4 linked regions of the Homo sapiens genome follow. The protein of the gene in region 4 purifies or fractionates together with the protein of the main gene of each other region. This does not show direct contact. Each region holds a gene or a part of one and is shown on either strand. Other genes may lie near its edges.

Region 1 (3,500 bases), on a different chromosome or scaffold from region 4:
CCATGGTGAGGTGGTAAGACCCCAATACCATGGCATACCCTCCCCGACCCCACCGGGCTCACCTGAACCATCCCAGGCAGTGAAGATACAGGAGCTCCGAGTTGAATGATCTTTGCTTCCATCGTCTCAGAAAGAGCCAGCTCTTCATGACTCAGTTTCCATCTCTTGCTCTTGCTGTGCCTGTGTCACAGGCAGATGGCTCAGGTGTGACTGCACAGCCCAGGCAGTGGAATGCTTGGCCTTAGAAAGCCAGGGCAGGTTAGGCCTATCTGATGGGTATTTGAATTATGTAAATTTGAAACAGTGCTGTATCAGCTAATAAATCTCTCTCTAGAGAACCCGTAATATCACAGCTAGAGGGCCAGATCCACTGTGAGCTGAGTTTCTGTGTTGTCTCCCAGTGCTGTCACTTCAGCTGATAAACAGAAACACCCGCTGTTCCTTATCACGTGAACCTTGGATTGTGTTAGTTTTGAAATTACTTGAGATCTTCAGGAGCATAATGCAATCATCATCTACTTTTCTTTTTTTCTCTTTTTTTTTGAGACGGAGTCTTGCTCTGTGCAACTTCCGCCTCCCAGGTTCAAGCGATTCTCCTGCCTCAGCCTCCCGAGTAACTGGGATTATAGGCACGTGCCACCATGCCCAGCTAATTTTTGTATTTTTAATGGAGATGGAGTTTCACCATGTTGTTCAGGCTGGTCTTGAACTCCTGACTTTGTGATCCGCCCGCCTCGGCCTCCCAAAGTGCTGGGATTACAGGCGTGAGCCACCATCTCTCTCTTTTTTTTTTTTTTTTTTTTTTTTGAGACAGGGTCTCGCTTTGTCACCCAGGGTGGAATGCAGTGGTGTGGTCATAGCTCACTGCAGTCTCAACCTCCTGGGCTCATGTGATCCTCCCACTTCAGCCTCCTGTGTAGCTGGGACCACAGGCACAGCCACCATGCCCAGCTCCTCATATCATTTTTTTGGGCACACGTGCATGTTTGGTTGTCTGCCTTGTTTCCTCCAATCCCTTTCATTGTTTTCCACGGTTCAAAATAAAATGAAATCTTCCACTGTGGTTTCCTGACTTATTTTCCCCATGATAGGAGAAAGCCAAAGCTGAAGGACTTTGGAACCTTTTCCTACCCTTAGAGGCTGATCCCGAGAAAAAATACGGAGCAGGACTGACCAATGTGGAATATGCACATCTGTGTGAGCTCATGGGCACGTCCCTGTATGCCCCCGAGGTACCTTCTTTAAAGTTTTCCTCAGTGTGTGGGAACATCCTGATCTTCATAAGAACTCAATCCTAAACAGATAAACCAGATTCAGAAGCACTGGCATGAACTTGAACTTTTTTTTTTTTTTGAGATGGAGTCTCGCTCTGTCACCCAGGCTGGAGTGTAGTGGCGAAATCTTGGCGCACTGCAACCCCTGCCTCCTGGGTTCAAGTGGTTCTCCTGCCTCAGCTTCCCAAGTAGCTGGGACTACAGGCATGTGCCACCACACCTGGCTAATTTTTGTATTTTTAGTAGATACAGGGTTTTACCATGTTGGCCAGACTGGTCTCAAACTCCTGACCTCAGGTGATCCACCTACCCTGGCCCCACAAAGTGCTGGGATTACAGGCGTGAGCCACCATGCCCATCCAATTTGAAGCTTGAAATATTAATGTGAGAAGGCCAGGCATGGTGGCTCACACCTGTAATCCCGGTACTTTTGGAGGCCGAAGTGTGGGGGATCACTTGAGGCCAGGAGTTCGACACCAGCGTGTGCAACATAGAACTCTGTATGTACAAAAAAATAAAAAATTAATCGGGTGTGATGGTGCATACCTGTAGTCTCAGCTGCTTGGGAAGCTGAGGCATGGGAGGATGGCTTGAGCTGAGGAAGTCGAGGCTGCAGTGAGCCATGATCGTGCCACGATACTCCAGCCTGGGTGACAGAGCTTGACTCTGTTTTTTTTAGAAGAGGACATGACAGTCATGGTCACGCTCCTTTTCCTTCTCAGGTATGTAACTGCTCTGCGCCTGACACGGGCAACATGGAGCTGCTGGTGAGGTATGGCACCGAAGCGCAGAAGGCTCGCTGGCTGATTCCTCTGCTGGAGGGGAAAGCCCGCTCCTGTTTTGCTATGACCGAGCCCCAGGTACGTCGCCTGGGCTGCCACCCACTTGCCTGGCCCTGTTGTTGTCGGCCCCACAGGGAACACGGGCTGTCTGCTGGCGTCTCTGACTGGAATATGCTCCCCACTCAGGTTGCCTCTTCAGATGCCACCAACATTGAGGCTTCCATCAGAGAGGAGGACAGCTTCTATGTCATAAACGGTCACAAATGGTGGATCACAGGTATTTGGCCTAAAATGCACTTTCCAAATGCACATCAGGGAGTCTGTGCTGTTAGGCGCGTCTCTCAATGCCTGGGAGGAGCCTCTGCTTTTTCAAGTTGACACAAAGGAGATTCTGTCACTTAGCGCCCCCAGCAGAGGCAGCTGGGAGAATAGGAGGGTAATCCGTGGAGCACACTGTTCTCAGAGGTGGCACTTCACAGGGCAGGGACGTCCCCCGGTGCCCACACATGGACGGATGCCTCCCTGCACATGTGACCCCAGGAATCTCTCCACTTCCTGCTGTTCATTCTGCTTTGGGCAGCTCCCCTTCCTTGGTGGCTTCCTGGCTCCTCGATCAGGTGTGTTACATCCTAAGGGCTAATGACAATCCTGACTTTTAGGGATTGTCCAGTGTTACTTTTGCAGGGCCCCTACAAGTAGCCGTGGAGCTTACCTCCCGGAGCCCATACCTCCCTGGACATTAAGAATGAGCATCCCCATTTTGCAAAGGAGGAAACCGCACTCAGACTTAGGTCCCTTGCCTGGGGTATGAGCCCCCAGCCAGCAAGTAGAGAACCCAGAGTCAAAGGTTCACCTGATTCCAAGGCCCGGGCCCAGAGCCGTTATGTGTGCACCACCTGTGGGAGCCGAGCCAGCTGGCAGGGATCAAGTAGCGGTTTTCATCCTCTTGTCTCTAAATTATATTTTCTACTCTATGTGATGCTTTTAAAAACTTGCTCTTATGATGTTGGATTCATTCCTCACTGGGACAAAACCCAATTTGCTCTTATTTCTGGTCAGCAGTCTGCAGATGCTCATCTGATTACATGGAGCCTTAAAGAGCTCTGTCTGCTTCCTTACTGTGCCTTTCTTGGGCCAGGACCACGTGTGTAGAGATTTGATGGCCCTGGTGTCAGATGATGGGGTCTGTCTCTCTCCTTTCCTGGCAGGCATCCTGGATCCTCGTTGCCAACTCTGTGTGTTTATGGGAAAAACAGACCCACATGCACCAAGACACCGGCAGCAGTCTGTGCTCTTGGTTCCCATGGATACCCCAGGGATAAAAATCATCCGGCCTCTGACGGTGTATGGACTGGAAGATGCACCAGGTGAGACCTCCAGGGGCGGGTCACCCCTGGGTGTGGGTCTGGTCCCCAGGAAACACCACTGAGGGGCCCCTGCTCTT
Region 2 (3,500 bases), on a different chromosome or scaffold from region 4:
GTGCAGCAGTGGCAGTTGATAGTAGGAACTGAGGTCATTAAAGGACTTGGCATGTCATGCTAAAGAGCACCCTGTTGGAAGGAGATGGGGTGAATAAACCCTGGGGCATTGAGGACTGGCTGAGACACAGAGAACAGTTAGTGCACTGAAATAGTTCAACTGTGAGAATTTGGTAACCACCTAGTTAAGGGATGAGCCTGAGGTTTATTTGATAACTAAGTGACTTAATGGATGTACTGGTAAGAGAGAGAGGAAACATGGAGCAAGTTTGAGGGGAAAAACAGTGACTCCGTTTGTGCAGCTAATTGCATATGTGGGCTTGTGGGTCTTTCATTTATTCATAAACGTGTTGAGAAATACCTGCTACCTATCTAGTAAAGTAAGAGATGCATCCTCTCTTAAAGGCAGTCAGCTTAGAGTCTGGTGATTTGAATTGACATGTCCACTGATAGATGTTGACACTGTGAGACTGGCGGTTCAGTTTGAGGTTTCATCAGCATTGCCGATATTGGAGCCATGAAAAACCAAAGAACAGCCAGTGAGAGAAGAGATCTCAGAGAAAATAAAATTGAGAAAGTGAAGGACAAAAAATGTTGTGAAGATAGACCAAGATTGATGGAATCAGCCATAGAGAGGTCAAGTGGGATGAGAATGAGCACGCATCTGTTAAACTTTGTGCTTAGGAGCAGAATCTAAGGGAAGGGACAGTCCAGAGGTTAGAACTCAGGGTAAGATGGAAGAACAGGGGCATCTGGGAGTGAGGCAGTTTGGTTTAGTGTAGAACCTTTTTGTAACAAGCATTCCCTTCTGTCTAGATGACTTTTAGATATGTTTCATTGGCTTGGTACCTTTTAGAATAAAATGATTTAGAGGATCTCTCATTTTCAGGGAAAATAAATATATTCCTCCTGGACAAAGAAATAGAGAAGTCATATCCTGGGGAAGTGGGAGACAGAATTCACCGCGTATGGGCCAGCCTGGATCGGGCTCCATGCCATCAAGATCCACTTCTCACACTTCAGATTTCAACCCGAATTCTGGTTCAGACCAAAGAGTAGTTAATGGAGGCAAGTATTTTGACCAGACTTGTCAATATCATTGATAAAATAGTTTTCTAAATACTTAAAATACTTAAAATAGTTTACATAACTGATATGAATGTGCACTTTAATGATTTGGTGAGTAGCTTTCACTTCAGCATTACTTAAAATTGGCTTTTGTGGATATTAAATTAGTAAAACATTGTATATGTCATTGACATATATATTATTTAGCATGATGAAATATTCATGATGTACTAAGATAAAGTGCTACATTTAACCCAAGACAATCACTTGGCCAAAAACACTTCACATATAAAGAAATTGGAAACTTTGGGTAGGTTCTCAATTTTAAAAACACTGGATAATAAAATTTTTTAGACATAATTTATATGGAAAATTCTAACCTATGTGCAACACTGTGGTTAATATAGATCAATTTTCATTATTTGTTTCTATATTATGCTTACTTCAAGAAAGGATCTGAGGTAACTTATAATACAAGACATGATCAAGAGTCATGTGAAGAAAGTGACTAGAGAAATTTGCTTAAAAAACAACAAAAACAACCCTTAGTCTAAGGGTGGATGTTACAGTTTAGCAACTTAAGTAAAAGAAACCTGAATCTTTAGTAGGAAGACATTTTTTACTCTACCTCTAAATCTAGGTTGAATATATCTTGTAGGTTGTGGATCTTTTCCATAAATCAGGGATACTGAACAACAGTTCTATGGATGGTATGGAAATAGTAATAGCAATAGTATGTTACTAACTTTGTGGGAAAAGAGTGGACATTCAATTTTAGCTATTTAAATTTGGAAAGTTAGATGAAAATAGAGAACACTAAGTTTCCAATTTCATTTGTTTTCATTGAGTCTTTTCTCCAGAATTCCTCTCCAAATGGACACTCTTGAGTATTTTCAGTACTTAATATTGGGGGTGAAATTTCTTTGCTCACTGAGGAAAGATTTTAGTTGTTTATAAACAGAATTTTAAAGTTAAAAAACCTGAAGGGGGCTGAGAAATATATGATACTTAAGTGTGTGGAACCCTATGGAGAGGAGACCTGGACTGTTTGATAAGATTAAGGTAAGTGATATGTAATGTTAAATACTAGCTGTATCTTTACCTAGGCATATCCATCAGTATAAATTTATTTGGTGATGACTGCTTTGTAGTTGCAGTATTTATTAAGCAGTCGCTTAGATAAGTGTTTAACTGTATAAATTATTTAGAAGGTCTCCCTTTTTCTAGTTTAATGAGGTCAAGACTTTTTTTTTGAAATAGCAATGAATATTATCATTTGATACTCACAGGAGTCACAAACTCTAGAAGAGTAATGTTTTATTTCTACTTAAATGGGACTTGCTTAATAAGATTCCAAACTGAGTTCTGGGTTCAAGTGTAAACCTGATGAAAATCATAGATAATTGTAAGGAACCAGCATTTCTAATTGGATATAATAGCTACTGCTTATTTTCGTTATGCCTCAGAGTTAAAACTAATACAGTAAATAATCTTACTCCTGAGTAGGAATTATTGTGATTTATTATGTGAAATTATCTAGTGTATGTTATATTCCTTTAAACAACCAGTTACTGAGAAACAGTTATAGAAGCAGGATTAATAGGCAAAGTCTTAACTGTCTTCTTCAATAGTGTGTATAGATCCTAATTAACCCTTTGGGAACGTGTATTCATTTAAACAGACTTAATCTTAAGGAGGTTAAAGTAAAATGTGAATTTATGTCAGTTAAGTTATGCTAAAACTTATCACAAATCAAATGACTGTCCTCAAAGGGTTAAAATGTACAAGAAATCATTTTTGTCATTTTACTTTTTTTCTGTTTACTTTTTTCCCTCATTTTTTTCTTTAGTTTTTATACTTTCCTTCATATCATTTGTTCTGTCAGGTGTTCCCTGGCCATCGCCTTGCCCATCTCCTTCCTCTCGCCCACCTTCTCGCTACCAGTCAGGTCCCAACTCTCTTCCACCTCGGGCAGCCACCCCTACACGGCCGCCCTCCAGGCCCCCCTCGCGGCCATCCAGACCCCCGTCTCACCCCTCTGCTCATGGTTCTCCAGCTCCTGTCTCTACTATGCCTAAACGCATGTCTTCAGAAGGTACAATACCACAATTTGTTCATGTTTTTGTTTGTCTTTGTTTAACTCCTATGTGAGTTTATAATTACAAAATAGTTTCCTCTTCATTATTTAATAACCTATAATTTCTGTGTTTTAACTTTAGTTTATTAAAACTATTTCTATTAACCTTTTGTTCATTAGAGAGAAATTTGATAAATGTGTGAAGCTATAAACTCTCTTGAATTGTTGTTAAAAAGGGGGTTTATCTCTGCCTGATAATTATGCTTCTTTACAGCCCCAGAAGGGTCTGCCCCACAGCCTTCCCCCTCCTTATTTGCACTGTATACAGTAGTTAAACAAATGAACTTTCTTCAGCC
Region 3 (3,500 bases), on a different chromosome or scaffold from region 4:
TATATTTTGCTTGAAGTTTTCTGTGGATATATATTGCATTAGCTTAAACTCTAAGGCTTTTCCTGTAGCAGTACTTTACTCCTATTTTCCTTCGGTTTGTTTTTAATAGTCTTGGTTTATCTAGTTTATGGTGCAGCTTGTCACATTCATCTTTTATAAGAGGAAATGGTTCATAGATTCTTCAAGATTAATCCCTCTGTCATGTGGTATTACATTAGACAGCTGGCAGTTTATATATATAGATAAATGACTATTAGAAATAATGTTATAGAAAGTTTCTAAGATTTGTATTCCAGACAGTGAATTTTTCTAAATGTCACAGGAACACTCTTCTTTGCCAGTTTTTCAAGTTTGCACATGCCAAATCTTATTTAGAAATGTTTGATGTCTCTCAGTCCAAGTTGACTATTAATATTTTCTTCATTCTTTATTTTAGATCCAAAGATAGCATCTTCTGTCACTGCTGGAGTTGCCAGTTCACTCTCAGAAAAAATAGCCGACAGCATTGGAAATAACCGGCAAAATGCACCATTGACTTCCATTCAAATTCGTTTTATTCAGAACATGATACAGGAAACGTTGGATGACTTTAGGTAGTAATTGAGAAACTACTCCTTCTATCTAGACCTTACTTGTTTTTTTTTTAGATGTAAAACCAGAACTATAGATAATGTTGTTGGTTACTATTGTCTAGGTTCTGGTAATCCTAAAGCCATAGAAAACATAATGAGTTTTGTTGATCTTTTCGTACTGCATTTATTGATTATGAGCCAGGAAAAGGCACATTTACCTAGGGCAATTATTAGGTAACTCAGCAGGGCAGTCTAGCAGGTAGACTGCCATTGTGAACTTTTTTTATTATTAAAATGTGGACAAGTTCTGGTAAGCTTAAATTGGGTTCTTAACCTGCAGTATGTTCATAGATCTATTAGGTATGCTGTGTGCAATAATGTAGTAGAAAAAGATACTTTAAAGCACAATTCTGAATGTTTTCCAATAGAATGCATCAGAATGTAATACTTAATCTAAAAAAAATTCTTTCTCAGACTTATCCTTGTCTGTCTCATCCTTCGAATTGTGAACATTCTAAGAATGTGTTCTACAATGCTGCTTTCTTTTATCATCTCAATATTTTTGGAAGCTATCTTCAATTATTAAAATCATTGGTGCCTTTTTTCCTTTCTAACCTATAGTTAATGTTGTAGCTCAGATTTGGATTACCGTAAGCAAGAATGTTGGAGAAAATGTGCAGTTTTTGTTGGTGCATGCTTCCTTTTAATGTTTTAAAATACTTTTAAAATATATTTTTAAATGTCGAAAAATACTTTTTAAAGAAAAATTGTAATTTTGGCATTTACCCTACCTAGTATATGTACCAGATACTAAGGATACATCAAATGATCTGCCACAAAGGCCTTGTGATGTAGTTGGGCTAGGTGCAGTGTGTTCTGCCATGTGTGTTTCTCTTAATGTGAATTAATTCATTTGGGATCAGTAGAATAGAACACTGTTGACAATATGATGAGGAAATTTTGTTTGTTCGTGTAATAGCAGCCAAAATAAAGTACACCTGAACACAGCTGAATGCAGCAAACCCCGTCAGCATCCATCTCTTTTTATTCACTTCCTCTTGGCTTGGCTGTGTGGTCTGTTAGAAGTACTTATTTTGTGATTATTTCCCATCTTTGGGCATTTTGCTCTTGCCTCTGTAACTTGATAGCCGCAATCCTTCTATCCTCTTCCATTAAGTGACCATCACTTCTTCACAGTAAGGGTATTATTCAATAATTATCTATTAGATTTTTACTATGTCTTTTTAACTATGTTAGTATTTTTATTAGGATTTAATTGTTTTTGTTGTGCTCTGGTTACAAAGTTGCATAGGTTTTTGAGTGCTTTGCCCTAATCCTTTTTCCCTAAGTTCTGTTATTTTTAATACACAGTGTTAAAGAATATACGTTTTTTTCAGGAGTGCATAAATATTTATGGCATAATAGTAGAACTGTCTGGATACAGCTGACTATAATACAGTGTGAGCAAAGTGATGTTGAAATCACAGAAAGGGAGCAGTTCTTCTGTGGGGGCAGATTTAGAAAGGTACACTGAAGAGATTTTATTTTATACTGATGTGTGTGGGAACAGCTTGAGCAGAGACATGATCATACATTCTAGGAATGTTTGCAGAGAGAAGGCACCGTGGTAAGAGACCAGGCCTGAGGGACAGTTGTGAAGGTCTTAACACACAGGTAATGGAGAGCCATCAGAGTTTTTAAGCACAGGAGTAATGGGTGCTGTCTATTTATTACCCATTTATTCAACAAGCATTTGGGTGTCAGTTCACCACTGGCTTCAGATGATTTGAGGACAGTGGGCTCAGGGCCTTTCCTTCAGCAGACCCAGGGATCTGAGTGCTGGAGCAACTCTGAAATCGCTGTGCATTTCTGCCCTGCTGCCAGCTTTCGGGGTGGCTGGAGCTTGTTTTTCACTATCTAACCTGTTCCTGGCTTTCTGTGCCTCAGGAGAAGTGTGTCTGTCCCACTTTCAGCCCTGCAGAGCTGCTGCAGCACGTTTGGTGAAGACGTACAGTCAGTGCCTCTTGGTTTTGCTGCCCTGTGCTGCATGTCTGCACCTAGGAGTGGTGGGTAGGGACTTCTCTCAGCTCTTCTGCCCTTTGACCATAGGCAGCCTCTGCCTGGGACGCAGTGAAGACCCAGAGTGGCTCAGAGGATTTCCATAAATTCACTTGTTTTGCCATTTGCCTAGGTGTTCATCAGACTAGGTGTTCATCTACACCTATCATTGGCAGGACAGAGAGGGTATTGAGGACCTCTTTCTCAGCCATCCTCCCGTGGCTGCCATCTTCTCCATGAGAGCCTGGAGTGCCTTAGAGGGGTTACTCTCAGTTCTTCTCTGCTGCCCTAAGGTTTCACCAGGCTCTGTGCATCTGTATCTTAGGGAGTCTCCCTCAGCCCTCCTGTTACACTTGTCCCTACTTTTTTTACATGAGCGCTGAATGAAGGCTTGTGGGAAAAAGTTGGTGAGTAAATTGAGACTCTCCTTGTGGCTGGGACCCCTTGGAATTCTAAACTATCAAGCAGTGTTTACTTGGCTTTTAAAAATCTTATTAAAATTTCAGCTAGTTCTTTTTACTCTGTCAAGGGCATGAAGATGGGTCTCTTTTCTCCTAGTCATGGGTCTCTTTTCTCCTAAGAGGAACTCCTCATTTTCTGGATTTTAGTTCATTTAGATTTCTTTCCATTCTCAGCTCTCGGTTGAATTTAAAATAATATGATTTTATAGGTTATCAGGTTTGTTTTCGTTATTAGAGTTGAGAAATTATACTTTTGCACCAACCTAATACATCCTAAGTGGAAATCTGTGCATCTGTTTCTGTTGTCTATTAAGAAGATTTAAGTTTCTTTTGGCAAGCAGATCCCTTTGATCCTTTGGTTACTAGGTTCAGGTTTTCTTAGCACTAGTTTGTTTCCAGTTTGCCTTTA
Region 4 (4,292 bases):
TGCTGAATTTTATTTGTAACTCCCAAGTCAATACTTGAAATGTTTTCATGGCCATTTGTGGGCATGCACAGAGCAGTGAAAAATTTGCACATTCCCAGTTAAGGTTCAACAAGGCGTCACGCTGCTGCTGCTTGTTTCAGCTCTCCTATTGAATGAGTGTCCTTCTCAGTCTACTTAGTGCAACGTTTTTCACACTTTGTGCTTTTGCTGGGGATTTGGCTTTTGGAAATGGCCTCTGAGCCTCCTGCTGAAGAGCTGTGTAGTTCCTAAGCACAAGAAGGCTACCTTAGGGAGAAAGCGTGTGTTAGACACTTGATTCAGGTGTGTGCTATAGTGCCATCAGCTTAGCATTGATGAATCAGCAACACATATACTAAATAAAATGTCTTTAAACAGAATCATACATAAAACCAGATTATATGCTGTTGGTTGATGAAAATGTTGTGACCAGAGGCTCACAGGAACCTAATACTGTTTGCTAGTTCAATGTTCACTGTGATTTTATAGAACATAACCATCGCGAATAATGAGAATTGCCTGTGTCTTCTTCAGAGGAATTGTCGTGGGGCTTCATGAGATAATGCCATGAAATGCTGAGCAGTGTCTGGCACAAAGTACCTGCTCAATAAGCTTTTGCCACTATTTTGTTCAAGGCAAAGTGCACTTGCCAAGGACCAAACCAGAACTAGGACAGTAAATGGAAATGGATCTGAGATGGACCTTTAAGATGCAAATGGGGGCCAGGCGCGGTGGCTCACGCCTGTAATCCCAGCACTTTGGGAGGCTAAGGTGGGCGGACCACCTGAGGGCAGGAGTTCGAGACCAGCCTGGCCAACATGGTGAAACCCTGTCTCTACTAAAAAATACAAAAATTAGCTGAGCATGAAGTTGTGTGCCTGTAATCCCAGCAACTCGGGAGGCTGAGGCAGAGAATCGCTTGAACCCAGGAGGCGGAGGTTGCAATGAGCCAAGATCGCGCCATTGCACTCTAGCCTAGGGGACAGAGCGAGACTCCATCTCAAAAAAAAAAAAAGATGCAGATGGGATGGACGGACAGAGAGGAGGGGGACCTTAGGCAGGGGATTAGGCAAGGATAGGGCACCAAGTTTGGGTAAGGCAAGAGAGAGGAGAAACTTTTGGGTGTGGGGTGAAGAGAGGAGGCTGAGGGAGTCCAGGGTTGGAATGTGCTGGGCCTCAACGCCATGCTTAGAGACTCAACCCCACCAAGTCAGGCCCACCAGGGTAAGGTCCATCTGGTTCACAGGCCCTGCTATGTGCCACACTCTAGGTAAATTTTTTTTTTTTTTTTGAGACGGAGTCTTGCTGTGTTGCCCAAGCTGGAGTGCAATGGTGTGATCTTCGTTCACTGCAACCTTCACCTCCCAGGTTCAAGCAATTCTTCTGCCTCAGCCTCCCGAGTAGCTGGGACTACTGGCGCATGCCACCATGCCTGGCTAATTTTTGTACTTTTAGTAGAGACAGCATTTCACCATGTTGGCCAGGCTGGTCTCGAACTCCTGACCTCATGATCCACCGACCTTGGCCTCCCAAAGTGCTGGGATTACAGGCATGAGCCACCATGCCTGGCATGTAGGTAATTTAGTGTCTGGAAGAATGAAAGCAATGGGGAGCTATGGCAGAGCTTGAGGAAGGGGGAAATGGCAGGTACCCTTCATCTAAAAGGTAGTTTCATAATAAAAGCTAATATTTGTAAAGCATTTCCATGCACCAGGTGATGGGCTGAATACCTCACATGGGTTTCCCTTCTCAACAACCCTAAGAGGTTTACTGTTATCAACCTGGTTTCACAGAAGGGGAAATTGAAGCTTGGAGAACTCAAATCCCTCGCCCAGAGTCACCCAGCTCATAAGTGATAAAGCTGGGCTTCAGAGGCATTCAGATGCCAGAGACAAGCTCTTGATCCTTCCTTGCCCATTGAAGGCCCTGGCCTCTGTGTGGCATGAATGATGCCCATGAGACGTACTGGGGAAAGGAAAAGAAGGGGAGAAGCTGGGGAAACTGAGGAAGGCTGGCAGGAGCCCAGGTGTGATGGCGCCAGCAGCACATATCTCAAGCACCTGCTCCGAGCCAGGCTCGTGGGCACTTAGACACAGCCCATACCCTGCCCTCAAGGATCACACAGCTCACGATCACTCTAGTGCCCATGGGCATAAGACCTAGCACCAGGTAGGCACTAGACTAGACTGCCCTGAGACTGCACACACTGCACCATACACATCCCCACCCAAGGGTTCCCGGGAGGAGGAGCCAGGCCACTTACCGACTGTGTGCTCTTCAGCTTTGTACTTATGCTCCTTGGGGGCTTCCCAAGGTGGAATCTACAAGGGAGAGAAGAAGGCAGGGAACTGACTATAAGTCATAGCCTGCCACCGATCTGTTGCTAGTCTGCAGCTTCCTCTCACAGCCCAGAAATGCAGAGATTTCTTCCCAAGACCCAAACCCTTTCTACCTCCCCCCGTTGTCTTCTTAAGGCCCATCTCCCCCAGAAATGCAGGCTGTGCCCTTGTATCCACCCAGTCTGGTTGTCTGTCTCCTCTGCCTGGGCCTTCCGGGCTGGCCTCACCTTTCCACATAGGCCTCCTAGTCACCTGGACCCACAGGTCATGAGCAGAGGCCATGGCTCATGGCTGTGATAGCGACCCCCCAGAACAATCCTGGGACAATCCTGGTTCCCACAGCACTCACCGAAAGTGTTGACTCCAAGCTCACCAGCAGGAACCCCAGGAGCAGCAGAGCCCTCATGGCATCCGTCCGTTGGTCCAGCTGCCTATCCAGGAGTCCAGATCAATAGGACTGGCCAAAGGTCTTGGAAATAGAGATTGGTCAAGCTGCCCTCCTGAGCCTGGTGGGGCACAGGCTGTTTGTGGAAAGCCAAGTGGAGCAACTTCCTTGGTCACCCCTTGAGGGCCGGAAAGTTGGGAGTTTGTGGGTGGGGGTGAAATGAAGAGCTGGGCTCCTCCTCTCTTTTCTAGATAGTGGGACTGGAAGCAGAAGAAGGGACATTCTTATGCTCTGGGTCCTGTGGAGATCAGGAGGTTAAGGAGATCAAAGATCATGGGGATCTTGGAGTCCACTGTGAAGTGTGTTCATTTTCTATTGTCATGTAACAAACTACCATAAACTCAGCATCTTACAACAATACCCACTTTTAATTTTCTTTTTTTTTTTTTTTTTTTTGAGACGGAGTCTCGCTCTGTCGCCCAGGCTGGAGTGCAGTGGCGCAATCTCCGCTCACTGCAAGCTCCGCCTCCCGGGTTCACGCCATTCTCCTGCCTCAGCCTCCCGAGTAGCTGGGACTACAGGAGCCCACCACCACGCCCAGCTAATTTTTTGTCTTTTTAGTAGAGACGGGGTTTCACCATGTTAGCCAGGATGGTCTCGATCTCCTGACCTCGTGATCCACCCGCCTCGGCCTCCCAAAGTGCTGGGATTACAGGCCTGAGCCACTGCACCGGGCCATGTGTCGCCTTTTAAGAACTCACCTGACTAGGTCAGGCCCACCAAAGCCATTCTCCTTTTTTTTTTTTTTTTTGAGACAGAGTCTGGCTCTGTCACCCAGGCTGGAGTGCAGTGGCACGATCTTGGCTCACTGCAAGCTACGCCTCCCGGGTTCACGCCATTCTCCTGCCTCAGCCTCCTGGGTAGCTGGGAATACAGGCACCCGCCACCACGCCCAGCTAATTTTTTGTATTTTTAGTAGAGATGGGGTTTCACTGTGTTAGCCAGGATGGTCTCGATCTCCTGACCTCGTGATCTGCCCGCCTTGGCCTCCCAAAGTGCTGGGATTACAGGTATGAGCCACCATGCCTGGCCCTGCCATTCTCCTTATTTTAAGGTCAAACAATTTGGGACTTAAATTACATGTGCAAAATTCTTTCACAGAAGCATCTACATTCATGTTTGACAGAATAACTGGGAGGTGTGCAAACACCAGGGGTAGAGATCTTGGGGCCATCTTAGCATTCTACCAACCACAGGAAGTGAGGCAAGAAAGCAAATGATTTAATGAGAAAAGTGCTAAACCAAGGGGCACTAAGATGTGCAGCTGGAACATGAGAAGAAGACGGGGTGCACATGTGCTGCCCAGCATCTGTCCTGGTTCGGTAATGACACTTTGATTTTTCCTTTAGCAACGACTCCTCTCTTACTTCTTCCATGGGCTCTAGTGCTGCCAACTCTACCCTCAGAGCTAGGGCTAGAGATGTGGCCTAGGTCTGGTCAATCAGAGCATGACATCTCTAATCCACAGTGATTGGTTCAGAGATAAGCAT

What was found. The genes of interacting proteins can lie anywhere in the genome.
Region 1: the proteins of F12 (region 4) and ACAD10 purify together in Homo sapiens (affinity purification with mass spectrometry; one large-scale study listed by BioGRID and IntAct). This does not show direct contact.
Region 2: the proteins of F12 (region 4) and ATXN2 purify together in Homo sapiens (affinity purification with mass spectrometry; one large-scale study listed by BioGRID and IntAct). This does not show direct contact.
Region 3: the proteins of F12 (region 4) and NEDD1 purify together in Homo sapiens (affinity purification with mass spectrometry; one large-scale study listed by BioGRID and IntAct). This does not show direct contact.

The regions. Positions count from the first base shown.
Region 1 is NC_000012.12:111,745,053-111,748,552, forward strand, and holds part of ACAD10 (acyl-CoA dehydrogenase family member 10), read left to right. Parts: intron 1-1,091; coding exon 1,092-1,232; intron 1,233-1,996; coding exon 1,997-2,134; intron 2,135-2,242; coding exon 2,243-2,333; intron 2,334-3,264; coding exon 3,265-3,423; intron 3,424-3,500.
Region 2 is NC_000012.12:111,515,816-111,519,315, reverse strand, and holds part of ATXN2 (ataxin-2), read left to right. Parts: intron 1-888; coding exon 889-1,067; intron 1,068-2,952; coding exon 2,953-3,162; intron 3,163-3,500. UniProt on the Homo sapiens protein: Involved in EGFR trafficking, acting as negative regulator of endocytic EGFR internalization at the plasma membrane.
Region 3 is NC_000012.12:96,945,257-96,948,756, forward strand, and holds part of NEDD1 (protein NEDD1), read left to right. Parts: intron 1-436; coding exon 437-593; intron 594-3,500. UniProt on the Homo sapiens protein: Required for mitosis progression. Promotes the nucleation of microtubules from the spindle.
Region 4 is NC_000005.10:177,406,765-177,411,056, forward strand, and holds the start of F12 (coagulation factor XII preproprotein), read right to left. Parts: upstream 2,801-4,292; 5' UTR 2,764-2,800; coding exon 2,707-2,763; intron 2,340-2,706; coding exon 2,282-2,339; intron 1-2,281. UniProt on the Homo sapiens protein: Factor XII is a serum glycoprotein that participates in the initiation of blood coagulation, fibrinolysis, and the generation of bradykinin and angiotensin.